Linked DNA regions of Homo sapiens: region 2 is linked to region 1. A link means that fine-mapping ties the variant in region 1 to the expression of a gene that starts in the linked region. Tissue or cell type: whole blood. Region 1 holds a variant in brackets; the other region holds the start of a gene. All regions are shown on one strand. Distances are from middle to middle. Region 1 has its middle 23 kb from the start of SLC20A1-DT. Region 2 holds the start of SLC20A1 (solute carrier family 20 member 1).

Region 1 (8,332 bases):
AAAGGAAATTTAAGTATCAGAAAGAGCCTGAAAGAAGGAATAGTTCCTGGAAGAATACTTCCAAAGTACTCAAAGGAGGAGATTTTTTTTTTTTTTTGAGATGAAGTCTTGCTCTATCCCCCAGGCGGAGTGCTTTGGCACGAACTAGGCTCACTGCAACCTCCGCCTCCTGAGTTCAAGCAATTCTCCTGCCTCAGCCTCCTAAGTAGCTGGGATTACAGGCACATGTCACCATATCTGATTAATTTTTCATATTTTTGGTAGAGGCGGGGTTTCACCATGTTGGCCAGGCTGGTCTCGAACCCCTGATCTCAAGTGATCGACCTGCCTCAGCCTCCCAAAGTGCTAGAATTACAGGCATGAGCCATCGAGCCCAGGCAGGAGGAGCTATTAAAAGTTTGTCAGCAGGGTCAGGAGGGGTAAGACAGATTGAGCAACACAAGGAAGTTTTGTTATTTTTTTTAGGTAGTGGAAGGGGACCAGAGATACCAGCAATAATAGGATAGGAGAAAGCAGGAAAGAAACCTAAGTGTCCAGAAAATTATCTTTTTTCTGATGTCTTGGGCAGAAGTTCTCCACTTCTAAAGTTGGAGGTCCTCGATTTAAGGTCTCTCGATAGAATGGGAGTAGTAGTTAGACTGAGGGCAGTGGTGATAGCCTGGACAACATGACAAAAAGATTCTGAGATGACAGGCCAAGCCAGGTGTTCTGCAGGCAAGAGCCAAGAGAGATCTAGAGTGTTCCTTCACCACCATCCTGGGCTTTTGATGTTTTTTCATGGCCATGAGATAGGTATAGCTAGTCCCTGCAGTCCTCACTCAGTCTAATACACACCATATGGCTGAGTTTATTCCTAAGCAGTGCAGCTTTGTGTGTGTGTGCGTGTGTGTGTTTGCAACTTGTGCCATCTAGAACATCTTCCACTCCCTCACATAGTGTGCCATGCCGGGACCACTTTGGGAGTCGTCACTTCATACTCATGATCAATATCATCAGTATCTATAATTGCCCAGATCCAGGAAGCATAACTGGACAGTAAAAGCAGCATCAGGTTAGGCTGGGCATGGTGGCTTATACCTGTATTCCCAGCATTTTGGGAGGCCGAGGCAGGTGGATCACGAGGTCAGGAGATCAAGACCATCCTGGCTAACATGGAGAAACCCCGTCTCTACCAAAAATACCTAAAATTTAGCCGGGTATGGTGGCAAACGCCTATAGTCCCAGCTACAGTCCCAGCTACTCGGAGGCTGAGGCAGGAGAATCTCTAGAACCAGGAAGGCGGAGGTTGCAGTGAGCCAAGATTGTGCCACTGCACTCCAGCCTGGGCGACAGAGCAAGACCCCGTGTCAAAAAAAAAAAAAAAAAAATGCTGGGCGCTGTGGCTCACACCTGTAATACCAGCACTTTGGGAGGCCAAGGTGGGTGGATCACCTGAGGTCAGGAGTTTGTGACCAGCCCGGCCGATATGGTGAAACCCCGTCTCTACTAAAAATACAAAAATTAGCCGGGCGTGGTGGTGGGCGCCTGTAGTCTCAGCTACTCAGGAGGCTGAGGCAGGAGAATTGCTTGAACCCAGGAGGCGGAGGTTGCAGTGAGCTGAGATTGCGCCACTGCACTCCAGCCTGGCGACAGAGTGAGATTCCGTCTCAAAAAAAAAAAAAAAAGAAAAAAGCAGCATAGTTTGGTTTCCCCAGGGGTGAGCGTGGGAGGGAAAGGAGGAATGAAGAAGGAGAGTATATTGTGTTGGTTTGGGTCTCTTACAGACAGTCTGGGCCTCCTCCCCGACTCCTCAAACTCACACAGATTCTATTTAAAAAGGAAGTTCCCTTTTGGGGTATTGGCACATTTAGAATCCATATTGTCTGTTTTAAGTGTGTACTCTACTGAGAATTGAGCTTTGGTTCTCTATGTACCCTTTTTAGCTTCTCCTTTAAGCATCCATCTCTCTCTCTCTCTTTTTTTTTTTTTTTTTTTTTTTTGACACCGGGTCCCATTCTGTCGCCCAGGCTGGAATGCAGTGGTTCAATCACGGCTTACCCTGCAGCCTCAACCTCCTGGGCCCAGGTGATCCTCTCACCTCAGCCTTCCCAGTAGCTGAGACCACAGGGGTGTACCACCACACCCGGATAATTTTTTGTATTTTATGTAGAGACAGAGTTTCACCATGTTGCCCAGGCTGGTCTCAAGCGATCCACCTGCCTCAGCCTCCCAAAGTATTGGGGATACAGGTGTGGGCCATGGCGCCCAGCCTCATTCCATCCTTTTATGGCATCTATTGCCTGTGGGTGATGAGGGTCCTGAGATGTCCTGGCAATGTCCAAGGTGGTTGGCCAGTGTTGGGTACTCTTGACTATAAATGCGCATCATTTGATGAGATACATTCAGGGAATCTCAGTATGTAACACAGGTCATCTGCGAGTCCCTAAATTTATGTTACATCTACCTCCTATCTGTGGTAAGGACCTACATTGCCATGCCATACCCAGAAAGGTGCCTACTGTAGGAAATGCTTAATTGCATCCCCAAGTGGAGCATTTAGGAGGTTATGTAGCCTATTTGCCAGGACTGGCCAGAATCTGGTGTCCTGAGTTTATATGTGCCCTGGAGTTTTCTTTGCCCCTTGACTGACAGGCTCATTTACCAGACTTCGGTGGCTTCCTGTGCTGGAGTCATTCATCTTTGCTTTGGGTCCCAGTCCTGCACTGTAGACAGAATGTCGTGGCCTCTGTGATGATGTATTCAGTTGTCCTTACCTGGAAGGCACAAGTCTGATTGGGTTTTGAATTCCACTCATGCTATTTCTATGGACATCCACATCCATAAAACAGAGGGCAGTGGTGTAGTATTAATAAAATCTGAGGCTGGGTGCGGTGGCTCATGCCTGTAATCCCAGCATGGGAGGCTGAGGCGGTGGATCACTTGAGGTCAGGAGTTCGAAACCAGCCTGGTCAACATGGCAAAAATCTCATCTCTAATAAAAAAAAAAAAAAATAGCCAGGCATGGTGGATCACCTGAGGTCAGGAGTTCAAGACCAGCCTGGTCAACATGGCAAAACCCCGTCTCTACTAAAAATACAAAAAAAAAAAAAAATTAGCCAGGCACGGTGGTGCAAGCCTATAATCCCAGTTACTTGGGAGGCTGAGGCAACAGAATCACTTGAACCTGGGAAATGGAGGCTGCAGTGAGCTGAGATCGTACCACTGCACTCCAGCCTGGGCAACAGAGGGAGACTCCATCTCAGAAAAAAAAAAAAAAGTCTGATACCATAATGTTCACTGCCATAGGGATTGAGACTTGATCATTTAGTCTTGCTTCCAGGCACAGGCCCGCACTGCCAGCCCATTGGCTACCGTCTCTAAATCAATGAAAAAGCAGCAAGGAGCATTTTGGAGGGGTTTTTCAGGAAAACCACCACTGTCCCCAACTCTGTCCACTGGGTAGTACCTTTTTTTTGTGTGCAAAATTTTAAACAGCTTTTGTTTTCCCCTGTGGCTGCACAGCTGCAAGGGCCAAGAACAATCCGCCAGCCTGTAACTTAGCGGGCTCCATCTGTGAACCAGCTTCAGGCATCCTCAGGGACTTGGTGTATCAATGCCTCCATGAAGCTGGAGGTGCTGGCACAAAATGTTCCTCTGGGATCAAGGGATGTCTGGCCATCTTGTAATGCCATTATGTGACTCTTTTGATGCCTGATGACCCCATTCTACAGAGTAGCCAGTCACTGGCACTTGTAGCTGAAAAGGATCATTAGAGCTAACTGGCCTGAGCAGAGTGCAGTCTGTACAGTCTGCCGGACACTGCTTTTTTTTTTTTTTTTTTAAGATGGAGTCTCACTCTGATGCCAGGCTGGAGTGCAGGGACTTGATCTTGGCTCACTGCAACCTCCACCTCCCGGGTTCAAGCGATTCTCCTGCCTCAGCCTCCCGAGTAGCTGGGACTACAGGCACACGCCACAATGCCCAGCTAATTTTTGTATTTTTAATAGAGATGAGGTTTCACCATGTGGCCCAGGATGATCTTGATCTCTTGACCTCGTGATCTGCCCGCCTCGGCCTCCCAAAGTGCTGCGATTACAGGCATGAGCCACTGTGCCTGGCCTGGACACTGTTCTTAAGCACGCTGGACCCTGCCAGCTCTTTTCCTCAGTGCAGTGGTCTTTTCCCCGCCTGTACTGCTTCACCCACACCACATGGCTGGGCTCAGGGAGCCCAGTGGGTCCTGGATGTGCTCTCATCCCACTAATGCTGTTCTCACTGTAGCATTTTTCCAAAGGCAACATCACTTGCCATTATGGACAGAAGTATTACATATCCTTAGAACAGGCTGTGTGTCCCTACACTGGGAAGGGTGCATGACCTTGGGTAAGACTGTTCCTGTGGGCCAAGGACATTCTTGGAAGAGGTTTCACCTGTGAATCATTAGCAGTCCATACTCTAGCAGCTCATGGAATCACTGCTTAGGTCCTGATGGGAAAT[T/C]CTGAGAGGTATCCAAAGGTTCACTACACATTGTAAAGTCGTAGATGTGGAGCCCACACTGCCACCATAATTAAGGCTGCGGCAGGTCTTTCCACTACCTTCTGTGAAGCTGCCTGCTGCTAGGAGATGTGGCATGTAGTAAGCAGGAACTCCATAGCCATGGCCCATAGCTTAACATCTTTTATCATGAAAACATGCCCATGGACAAATAATTTGTATGTAAGACATCATTGCAATTGAATAAGCATTTGTAAATCTATGAATATATGGTGCTGGAGGAAGTGCTGTGGGCGGGATAAGCAAACCCATGAATATGTTTGTGTTAATCCACCTTCATTCTCCACCAACATTTGCCTCTTGCACTGACCAAATAGGTGAGGTAATAATGGTGTTATGGAAATCAGTAGCCCTGCATCTTTCAAATCTTTATGGAACTAATTTCTGCAATGTCATCAGGCACAGAATTGTTTTTTTTTTAACAACTGGTAATCAATTTATTAAAATAGTTGACTTAAGCATCTGCAATGGTAACTTCCACCTCAACTCCTGGCTCAATACTGATGGAAGTAATCTGCTTAACAATCTCAGAAGGACTGTGCAAGTCAATGAGTCGCTTGTGAATTCTCATCTGGAAATGATCCCAGGTCTTAGAATCTTCACCACAAGTAGTTTTTCTTGTAGTGATTCTCAAAGTCTTGGCAGGCATTCGAACTGGTCCTTTCACTTTGAGATTCTTTTCCTTTGCGCCTCTGATTAAGTCATCACACACCTTTTCCAGGGATTTTACATTGCGGCTTGTTAGGGTGATTCGAATTTGGTGAATGGCCACCTCCGGCTCCACGGGTGTTTTCCGGTATCCTTAAAAGCCAAGGCTGCTGCGCGGCTTCCTGACCGACTTGTTCCTCGGCGAGAGTGAACAGCGGTAAGTCAGGAGCAGGAGCGTCTGAACGAGAAATCCTCAGCACCTACGACCGCGTCTTCCTCCACAGAATTGTTTTTAGGTTATTATCTTGGTTGTAGGTGGCCCTTTCAAGGATTCTAACTGGGCATTCCCACCATGACAGACCGCATTCCTCGGATAAGGACAGCAAGGCTGGCAAAATAGCCACACGGTGTGCCTGGGATCCTACCTGACCCACTGTGAGGTGGACTCTGGCCAAGACCTGTCTATCCCCTGACCTCCCTAAGCCTCTCTCCAATTGACCATAGAGATTCCAGGGATTAGGCTCAGATAATACCAGTATCTACACATGTGGCTTCCAGTAAAATGAGCACAGACTGAGATTACAGAACCCAATTCCTGGCCCTCTCTGCTGCTAAATATCTATCAGGAAAGATCCTCCCTGAGCTTGCTTACTCATCTGTAAGTTGGAGCCAAAAATGTTCTTTGGATCGTGTGTCATTTGTGCAGATGTGATAAGATTACACACGTCAAGTGCTTTACACATTGCCTAATAAGTACCATTCACCGTTTCTTCTGCAGAGTGTAAAGAGGAAGATAAATTATCTATTACTATTTAGCAGTATTTTAATAACTTTTATGCACTTTTAATTTATTTCCAAATTTTTTCTTTTCTTTTTTTTTTCTTTTCTTTTCTTTTTTTTTTTTTTTTTTTTCAGTAGAGACAGAGACTCTCTTTGCTGCCCAGGATGGAATGCAGTGGCAGTCATAGCTCACTGAAGGCTTGAACCTCTGGGCTCAAGTGATTTTCCTGCCTCAGCTTTCTGAGTAGCTGGGACTATAAGCATGCACCACCATGCCTTACTATTTCTTTTCTCTTTTCTTTTCTTTTTTTTTTTTTTTTTTTTGAGACGGAGTCTCGCTCTGTCACCCAGGCTGGAGTGCGGTGGCTTGATCTCGGCTCACTGCAACCTCCACTTCCCAGGTCCAAGTGATTCTCCTGCCTCAACCTCCCAAGCAGCTGGGACTACAGGCGTGTGCCACCATGCTCAGCTAATTTTTGTATTTTTAGTATATTGGTCAGGCTGGTCTTGAACTCCTGACCTCGTAATCCACCCACCTTTGCCTCCCAAAGTACTGGGATTACAGGGTGAGGCACCACGCCCAGCCACCTGGCTATTTCTTAAAAAAAATTTGTAGAGATGGGGTCTTGATATGTTGCCTAGGCTCAAATTTTGTCATCTTTTAGATAACAGGATTTGGGGCTGGGTGCAGTGGTTCACACCTGTAATCCCAGCACTTGGGGAGGCCTAGGTGGGCAGATCATGAGGTCAGGAGTTCGAGACCAGCCTGGCCAATATGGTGAAACTCTATCTCTACTAAAAATGCAAAAATTAGCCGGGCATGATGGCGGGCGCCTGTAATCCCAGCTACTCAAAAGGCTGAGGTGCGAGGAGAATTGCTTGAACCCGGGAGGCAGAGGTTGCAGTGAGCTGAGATTGTGCCATTGCACTCCAGCCTGGGCGACAGAGCGAGACTCTGACTCAAAAAAAAAAAACCAAAAAAAATTTAAAAAAAAATTAAAAAACAAAACAAAACAGGATTTAGGGATAAGAATTTAGGACTAAGTCAATTTTCTATGAATATTCTTACATGTCAAATTTCGAAGGCCCAGACTCAAATGACTTGATTCTTATTTTCAAATAATTGGGCTGTAAGATTTATCTGTTACTTCTTAACATATAATTTGTACACCTGTCTAGGATTTAACTTGGAAAAGATTTTTCAAAACTTGGTACGATTATATAAAATGTGTGCTTATGACCATAGCTGGTAGGCATGTGAGATGGTAAGGCATTTCCGCAGAGCAGAGGTTCATAAAAGCTTTATCATGCATCAGAGCTATCCGGAAGGCTTTTTAAAACACAGATTGCTCAGCTGGGCGCAGTAGGGTGCGCCTGTAGTCCTAGCTACTTGGGAGGCTGAGGCAGAAGGATCTTTTGAGCCCTGGAGTTTGAGGCTACAGCATGCTATGATTGTGCCTGTGAATAGCCACTGCACTCCAGCCTGGGCGGCCTAGCAAGACCCTGTCTCTAAAACAATAACATCAACTAAAACAAAAACCACGCAGATTGCTGGACCCCAACCTAGAGTTTCTGATCCAGTAGTATTGGGGTGGGGCCTGAGAATTTGCATTTCTGACAAGTCCCCAGATGATGTTGATCCTTATTCTCCTGGCCCATAGACCACTTAATTAAAGCCAGCAAAGTAGTCATCAACGTTGACCCAGGATATAAGCTGAAGATGATGAACAGCCTTGAGGCAGTAAGGGAGGCCTGCCCTCCAACATCAGGAAGCCAAGTGAAGGCGTGACTCACCAGGGCAGGGTGGGGTTCCTGCGTGTGAGAAACCAGAATTGAGAGCTGCACCAGCTGTGTGGCCCCAGGTTTCTCAGGGTGAGGAGAGGCAGCCCAGGGGAAAGGCACTCGGGACCACACCCCAACTCACCTACCCTGTGTAAGTTTTTTCCATTGCATGTATCAACATCTAACATGTCATATATTTGATTTACCTCATTTATTCTCTGACTCCTTGCCTCCTGTTAGAATATAGGTTCTCTAGAACAAGGATTTTTATATGTTTTATAGAAGAACAGTAACTGAATCATAGCAGGTGTTCAAATACTGACTGAATGCATGCCTATATACATATAACTATGTTCATGATACTGTTTCTAGAAGGATCCACAAGAAAATGGCAGCAGACTGTCTCTGGGCAAGGGAAATGGAGGAATGGGTGGGGCAACTAAAACTTTTTACTGACTCTATAGCTCTTTGAATTTTTCCTTTTTTTTTTTTTTTTTTTGAGATGGAGTCTTGCTGTGTCACCCAGGCTGGAGTGCACTGGCGCAATCTTGGCTCACTGCAACCTCTGCCTCCGGGGTTCAAGCAATTC
Region 2 (8,332 bases), 24 kb after region 1:
GGAAGGGAGAGATTGACTTTGCCTCTTTGGCTGTTGTATTCATGGCCAGTCCTCAGTGTGAAACTCAATGCAAGAAGGGGTTTGTGGCCCATAAAAGCATGGGCTGGTCAATCTTGTTGATCCACTAGATCCATAGCAGGCTATTTGTTGACTGAACAGACGAATGAATGAAAGGCTAGGGAAGCCATACAAAGCCAGATGCTGTTACCCTCCACCTCCTCCTGGGATGACTTTGGGGATGACTCACGTCCTGCTGCCCCCTCACTTTCTCAGCCTAAAACCACACATCCTGGACTGTGCGGGCAGCGAGCTGACCCTTCCTTTTCTGCTGTAGGATCTTCATTACACAAAGTTCCTGAGTTTCCAGCAAGTTGCCTTTCTTCCCTGTTTAAGAGCTGAGAAAACTGGGCCTTGGGGAAAGCGAGAAGTCCCAGTTTAAGTCACCAGAGACGTCTTCCTAAAGAAGTATTCAGGATGCTGTGCTATCCAGAAGCTGGCTCCAGAGACACCTGGACCATTTCAAGCTCTAAGAACTGTGCTTCTGTTCCCTCTGCCTGGCTCCTATGCCATATCACACCCACATGTGTGAACTCAAAGCCAAAGGGAAGAGACCAGGCCATGTGCAGCCAGGACAGAGGCATGTAAAATCTAGAGAGGGTGGGCCAACCTCCCATACTCCTGTGTTGGCGGAGAAATAGACCCACCAGTTTGTCTGGCACAACCAAAACTCAGCTTTCTTGCCATGGGATGCTGGCCTGAGACCAGTCACAACCAGTCTCAACCAGTCTCCATATCAGGGCTTGGCTGTCTGGGTGCTTTCAAGCACCCTTCCCCCACCTGGATCCCAAGCATCCCTTGGACTCTGCCAGGACAGAGCCACAGATGCCGGGGGAAATGGGAAATGACTGGAGACACAGAGGACAGCCACATTCAAAGCTGGTGGGAAAGTGGTGGTGGTGACATGTGGCCCTTGCCTGAAACATTATTTTGAATTTATTTCCTGTAGGAATTGACTACAGGTGGGTTTTGTCTTGCAAGATAGGTTTCCTTTCTTGAGAAATCTCAAGAGAACAGAGTTTTCAGTAACTCTAAGACACGGTTAGGCCACTGCAACAACTTTATTTCTGGAGAGAACATGTGCTCTGGCTTCCTGCCTCTTCCTACTCTGGGGAAACTGGGGCCAATCTCGAAGACTGATCTCCTAGAAATGTCCTTTTTTATTCCAACAGGGTTTGATGCAGCTCAAAATACAGGCTGTAAAAGCAACAGAGTTAATAAAAAGGAGGGGGAAAGAAGGAGGAAGTAAATGTGTTAAGTGCAAATAAGAGTTGGCACCTAGGGCAATCATACTTGCCTCAGTACTTGCTGGCATCCTGGGAAAAGGCACTTACAATCTTGAAATTTGTTAGGTTCTTCGCAGCTTTAACTGCCGCTTCCTTCTCTGTGCCTCCGTTTCTCTGTCTATAAAGTAAGGGGAAAATACCTCATCTGAGATTTATTGAGAGCATCACCTGAGATAATCCATGCAGAGCACCTGAAATAGTACCTGGCACACAGTAAGCATTCAACTGCATCACAGATATTATTATTATTATTATTTTGAGATGGAGTTTTGCTCTTGTTGCCCAGGCTGGAGTGCAATGGCACGATCTTGGCTCACCGCAATCTCCGCCTCCCGGGTTCAAGTGATTCTCCTGCCTCAGCCTCCCAAGTAGCTGGGATTACAGCCATGCACCACCGTGCCCAACTAATTTTTGTATTTTTAGTAGAGACAGGGTTTCTCCATGTTGATAGGCTGGTCTCGAACTCCCGTCCTCAGGTGATCCACCCGCCTTGGCCTCCCAAAATGCTGGGATTACAAGCTTGAGCCACCATGTCCAGCTACAGGTATTATTATTACCTCATTCATCTGGGGATGGGGAGGGCATTGGTGGGTGGAGAGGAGCTGGTTCTCCTTTACTCCAAGGCTCCTACCTTCTCTTCCCTGGATGTTCTCGCCCCTGCTCCCATGCAAGTCCTCACAGACGGCCTCTGAAGCCGCCTTTGTTCCTGGTCTGGTTCCACAACGTTCCCATGCCCACTTGAGCTCCCTCTACTCCAAGTAGACTATTTCCAGGATGAGTACTTCAAGTACATCGAACAGTGACCTCAAATGCATTTCCTTGACTGTGCCTCTCTGAACTAAAAAGTGCAGAAATGTCATTGCTTCCTTCTTTTGTCTGGTCTTCCACAGGGCTAGGTTGGGATCCGGGGGGAGAGTAGCTTTCCTAGCTCTCAGCAGCTCAACTCCACCGAATTAGTGAACGATGGACATGTCCCCAAGAGGACTCTAAACCCACAGTCCCCAACATGGTGTTCTGCAGCATGCCACAGGTCATCTTGTTCTGTCCTCTCTGAGGGTGAGGTTGGAGAGGGACCCTAGGCTCACAGGCTCAGTGACAGTGACTCACCAAAGATCCTGTGGGCAGTCAGGGTCTGGGCCAGGCCAGTGAGCCCATTCATATGGCATGAGCCACAACACTGTTCCTCTTCCTCCGGCAGCAGCCCGTTTTGCGTGTCCCCTCACTATGAGCCGTGGGAGAAATTTGAAAGGGCTTGGATCAGAGGGCAGGGAGAAGAGGGTGGTCCTGACATCTGACACATACTTCATTTTAAACATGGGCTATGTATGACAGGCCTTCAGCTAGTTATTGAACAAAGAGAATAAGAGCCCTTTTACAAGGGCTTTACATATATTCATTCATTTGGTCCTCACAACAGCACTGTGAGTTAGAAGTCTCAATCTCACCCCTTTACAGATCAGGAAACTGAGGCAGATAATTTATTTGCCTATGGTCACAGGACTAGTGAGTGACAGAGCAGGTGGTTTGGTCTTACAGTCTATGTGTTTAACCACTACACCAAACCACCTCCCTAAGATGCTAGAGGGGGTTTGTGCCAATGCCTGGATTCTAAGAGATTAGATTCTCTTTAGGATCTCTGACCTGTTTCCTCAGCATTCAGAGATAAGGCCAGAAACAATGCCATTTGTGCACGAACTGACAACTGACGGTCCTCCTACCTCCTATTTCTATTTAAAAGGCACTGTAACTTCTTTCCACAGGCAGATCCCTACCTCTCCTCCCTTAGGGGAGGACGAAGGTGTCCCAGCCAAGGAAGATCCTGGTCTCCAAGGGCTGTACCCTACTGATCCGGAGGCAAAGCAGTGAGGGCCCACCCCAATTCCTCACCTCCCATTCTACTCTTCGGCAGAAGCATCTCAGTGTTGGAAAGATAAGGATTTCTTCCTAAAAAGGAAGGATTACACTATATCAGAGTCTGAAGATACAGTTTTCATTTGCAACGCAAGGGAATTCCTTTGAATCTCTACCTTATGATTTCCCTGCAAACCCACTCCGATGGGGCTGGAGAGTGCTCTCTCACTCAGATGAATCTCTCAGGGGTTGTCCAGCAGGTGTTTGCCAACTTGAAGAGCTACCTACTATCACAGACCTATAAAAGTACGCCTGTGGACAGACTGAAAACAAACAAACAAAACACACACACAAACACACAAAACAACCGCACACTGGGAGAAGTTCTAGGCAATTTCCTTGCAAATAACTGCTTTGAAAATTACTGTTTTAAATTGGCAGAACACTAAGGACTTTGAACAGATCATCCCTTTTACTCAATGTTTTCATAACCTTGAAGTGAAGGTGGAGGGAGCAGTACGTTTTAAGGTGCCAGGATTACACTACGGGGTCAGTGCTCCCGGATATGAACTTTCTTTTTCAGACCGACCTTGGGACCTACAGCTTTGTAAGTTACTCATACAACTCCATCAAATGTTACAGGTAGGTCAGAGGACATTCAGGTTGTTTAAGCCTCTATAAATGACTCAGGCAGCAACAATTTACAACGTCTTTGTTTCTGCTATGCAGTGCCCTCCTGCTAGAGATGGCAAAAATGTGGGGAGGGCTTCAGAGCATTCTAAGCCTGGTATTTCTGGCTGGAATTTTTAAATCTCACTACAATCCTGACAAGAGACCACGACCTTAATCTCCCACGGCATGACTGGTTAGTCTTGATCGTAAGCCATATAATCAACACCCAAATGTGCATAACACATCTAAATAATGTCAAAACTACACTATATACCACGCAGGGGACCAGAAATCAATCTTTACCTCAAAAGGATAAGCTTCCAGGATGCAATAACATCCCCTTCCACCCTTTTCTACACCCTAAAACAGTAATATTCACGGTAACAGCAAAGCGGAAATCAGCTTTTCCTGAACATGTACTGAATTCTAGTCACATTCACACACGTTAATTCATTTAATTCCAGCCACAAGGTAGGCAGCCTCTGTTAACATTTTACAATTGTGAGAACGCAGAGATCTGGGACTGGCTCAAGGTGACACACTGCAGCAAGGAGTCAGAATTTGAATCCGAAGCAGTGTCCTTCCCCCTCGCAACAGCTGCGGCGTTACAAACACAGGTCAGCCACGGAGAAATTAATGACCCACAGCCATCCTTGCAGCTCTGCGCCATAACTGGGGAGACAAGCTGGTTCCCGTGACTCTTCAGTCTGTTTTCACCCAAGTGCATGACTGCGGGAGCAAAGCGACCACGTGAGCATCCCCCCCCCACCCCCCCGCTTCCCCCAGGCGAGGGACAGTGCCAGGCCAAGGACAAGTCACAGGTGCAACAACGTGCCAGAACTGGATCCGGAGCCCCAGGGCGCAAGATCTCCCGCAGCGTCACCCGGCAGAGGGACGGGTGTGGCCACCGGGCGCGGCAGGTCCTGCGTGCGCTGAAAGTGCGGCTGGAGGCGCGGACGGCTTTCCGGAGCCCCGAGAGAGGAGCTAGGAATGACTTTGGTCGCAGCCTCTGTAACCCCGCATGACGGCCTCTAGGGGGACAGCGAGGTCCCCCTCGATCTCTGGCTGTAATCAGCCGGCGGGGCCAGACGGTGCCGAGACTCCAGGGCGAGGCCGCAGGGAGGGGGCTGTCCCGCCCCACGTGGACCGGCTCCCCGCTGGGGGCGTGGCCGCCGAAGCGGGCCGGGCCAATGAGCGCCACCGTCGGGCTCACCCGGCTGGGCACGCCGGGCCGAGGAGGGCTGCGTCATGCCGGGGGCGGGGCTTCGGGGCCGGCGCGAGGCGCGGCGGGGTCACGCGGGTCGCTGCGCGGGCTATAAGTAGGGGCCGGCGGGGTGCTCCGCTGGAGTGATGGCTGCCGGCGCTCTCTGCGTGGTTCTTCTTCTCGGCCGCTGAAACCCCCGCGGCTGCTTCCTGGGAAGGTCGTGAGTCCCGCTGAGCTGTCCCCGGTGCCGCCGACCCGGGCCGTGTGCCCGTGGCTCCAGCCGCTGTCGCCTCGATCTCCTCGTCTCCCGCTCCGCCCTCCCTTTTCCCTGGTGAGTAGTGGCGCCGCCTCGTAAAGGCTCTTTCTTCTCCCCGGGGCCGGGCGCGGACGCCGTGGCGCTGGAGGCGGACGCCGTGGGCGGCGCGGCTGGCTTCTCTCTTCGCCGCTGGCCGCCTCCACTCCGCCCGTCTGCCCGCCCGCGGGCCTTTTTGGCGGTCCCCGGGCGGCGCGCGCGGGAACGGCCCTTTTCCGATTTTCGCGCGGAGGGCGCGCGCGGGCTGGCAGCGCAGGGGCTGGGCTGGGCGCGCGCGGGCCGCGGAGGACCCGGAGCCACGTGCCTCTCCTTCTCGCGCGTCCTACTGGGGATGGGGGTCTGGAGTAGCCGGCAGAGGCTATTGCGGGACCCCGGGCGCGTGGGTAGAGCGGGGTGCCCCACTGGCCCCCCAGGGGCACGCAGCTATTGTTATTTCCCCCCTCCCCCGCAGGATGAACTTGCGTCCTTTCTCTTCTCCGCCATGGAATTCTGCTCCGTGCTTTTAGCCCTCCTGAGCCAAAGAAACCCCAGACAACAGATGCCCATACGCAGCGTATAGCAGTAACTCCCCAGCTCGGTTTCTGTGCCGTAGTTTACAGTATTTAATTTTATATAATATATATTATTTATTATAGCATTTTTGATACCTCATATTCTGTTTACACATCTTGAAAGGCGCTCAGTAGTTCTCTTACTAAACAACCACTACTCCAGAGAATGGCAACGCTGATTACCAGTACTACAGCTGCTACCGCCGCTTCTGGTCCTTTGGTGGACTACCTATGGATGCTCATCCTGGGCTTCATTATTGCATTTGTCTTGGCATTCTCCGTGGGAGCCAATGATGTAGCAAATTCTTTTGGTACAGCTGTGGGCTCAGGTGTAGTGACCCTGAAGCAAGCCTGCATCCTAGCTAGCATCTTTGAAACAGTGGGCTCTGTCTTACTGGGGGCCAAAGTGAGCGAAACCATCCGGAAGGGCTTGATTGACGTGGAGATGTACAACTCGACTCAAGGGCTGCTGATGGCCGGCTCAGTCAGTGCTATGTTTGGTAAGTTCTTTTTATGTTTTGTCCTCTTCGTGGTGGGTGAGCAAATTTGTATCATGGGTGGTTCCATTTTTGTGCATAACCTTTCCGATTAACCTTTCTGAATGTGCCACTTACATAATGGAATTTTGATATTTACTTAATAAAACTTTACTATGTTTCAGGTTCTGCTGTGTGGCAACTCGTGGCTTCGTTTTTGAAGCTCCCTATTTCTGGAACCCATTGTATTGTTGGTGCAACTATTGGTTTCTCCCTCGTGGCAAAGGGGCAGGAGGGTGTCAAGTGGTCTGAACTGATAAAAATTGGTATGTTTAATTCCAAACGGCTTCTTAATTTTCGTTTTCGTCATATGTTACCATGGCATTAGGTATGGGAGGATGTGTTCTAACGTCGAGGGACAGACCCAAGAATTTTGAACTCTTAAACATTTAAAGTGGTTTTTGGTTTCTGATTTTCATTATTTGATATTTTTTCTTAATGTGTTCTATTCCAGTGATGTCTTGGTTCGTGTCCCCACTGCTTTCTGGAATTATGTCTGGAATTTTATTCTTCCTGGTTCGTGCATTCATCCTCCATAAGGTAACCTTTCTCCCCCGTATGAAGACCTTTCATGGAGCACACCCAATCGATTTCAAACCCAGTGGTACTTTTGCAGATGTGATTGGTGTATAGGTATGCGGCCTTGGAAAATTTTAAAAAGCTCTTTGTTCTGTGCATTTCTTGTATGTTGTGGAGTTCTCTGAAAGCGAGTTTTTAATACTCAAGAGGGCAGTCAGGAAGGAAAAATTGAATACTATGATGTGCCAAGAAGTAGGAGAAACTGGGAGCAAAAAAATAAGGAAATTTATTTTGCGTGGTTTTGTGTAGCTGTATACACATTATTTGTTTAAACCACTGTTATATTCAGGCTAATATAATACGTAAACTTGGAGTTCAAGACAGTGTCCCCTGTGGCTTTTTTAACTAAGCTGCCAGTTAAATGGGTCTCTGCCGTGCTGATTATCATAACCAGTTTATAAGCTTCTAGATGAGGACTCTGCCTCCCATAGTGACTTGACTCCAATTTCTCAGAATAGTTGAAAAGAACCAGTTAAAGGTAGTTTTTGGCCCGCCCCCCAAAAAAACTTCAGGCAGCCATTTAATTTCCTGTCCATTTGAAAATCCCTTTTAAGTGACCCAGTTTGCATTTCTTTTATCAAGAAGTCTTGCTGGCTGCAAAATAAATGTTGACAAGGGATTATGTTGGCATAGGACTGAGTTACAGTGAGGATAAATGCATTTTTCTCAGGAAACAAAGTTGTCCTTTTTCTAAGGTGAATGGCTCTTAACAATCCATTGTAAGTTCTTAAAAGTGTTCCTAAACTGTAGAAATCTGAGGGAGATAGCATAAATCCCAGCAGGTAAGAATGTATTCAGACCCACTTGTCTGGTCTAGTTGTAAGCTTCTCTAGGGAAAGATTTGTCTCTTCTCTGTAGAAATTCTATGACTAGTAAAGTGATTCACTAATCACTGTTTTCCATAGCCAGAATCTGGCAGAATATAGCAGTTTAACACTTTGAAAACTTGAAATATCTTTAGCCTGGTATAATATGAGAGTAAACAGTTCATTGATATTTATGGACTCCTAAGTTTGGTACTGTTTTATTCAGCAGACAGGTACGATAAGCATCTACCTTCCCACTCCCTACAACTGTAGTGTATGATACTGGGATGCTTAAATTAGAGGCTCACCAGTAGTCATGGACCAGATTTTTTTGTTTTTTTTAGAGTTTTCATTAGAACTGTATATCTTGCTACTTAGCAGAGAGTCAGAAGCATTAGTAGGATCTCCTGTTGTGAATTCCTGCTTGGTAAAGGTTTATGCTGGCCCTGTGTTGATTATTGAGTAGCAGATCATTTT

What was found. PIP is the estimated chance that this variant, and not a neighbour inherited with it, causes the effect.
Region 2: SLC20A1 starts here. The variant in region 1 is fine-mapped to the expression of SLC20A1 in whole blood (TOPMed, PIP above 0.99).

Annotation. Positions count from the first base shown.
Region 1 is chr2:112,616,822-112,625,153 of GRCh38, forward strand. It overlaps the pseudogene RPS20P11. Among named protein-coding and RNA genes, the nearest start is that of SLC20A1-DT, 23 kb to the right of the region's middle. RefSeq lists an enhancer at 7,659-7,798. The variant T/C (reference allele first, on the strand shown) is at 4,477.
Region 2 is chr2:112,640,729-112,649,060 of GRCh38, forward strand. It overlaps SLC20A1 (solute carrier family 20 member 1), which reads left to right and starts at 5,211. Exons shown (of 11, transcript NM_005415.5): 1 at 5,211-5,401; 2 at 5,835-6,434; 3 at 6,596-6,736; 4 at 6,925-7,010. The coding sequence starts at 6,101. SLC20A1-DT (SLC20A1 divergent transcript) reads right to left here and starts at 3,452. Exons shown (of 5, transcript NR_033871.1): 1 at 3,371-3,452; 2 at 3,231-3,287; 3 at 2,451-2,565; 4 at 1,355-1,461; 5 at 1,102-1,254. RefSeq lists enhancers at 1-904, 144-438, 1,034-2,233 and silencers at 4,873-5,702, 6,164-6,458.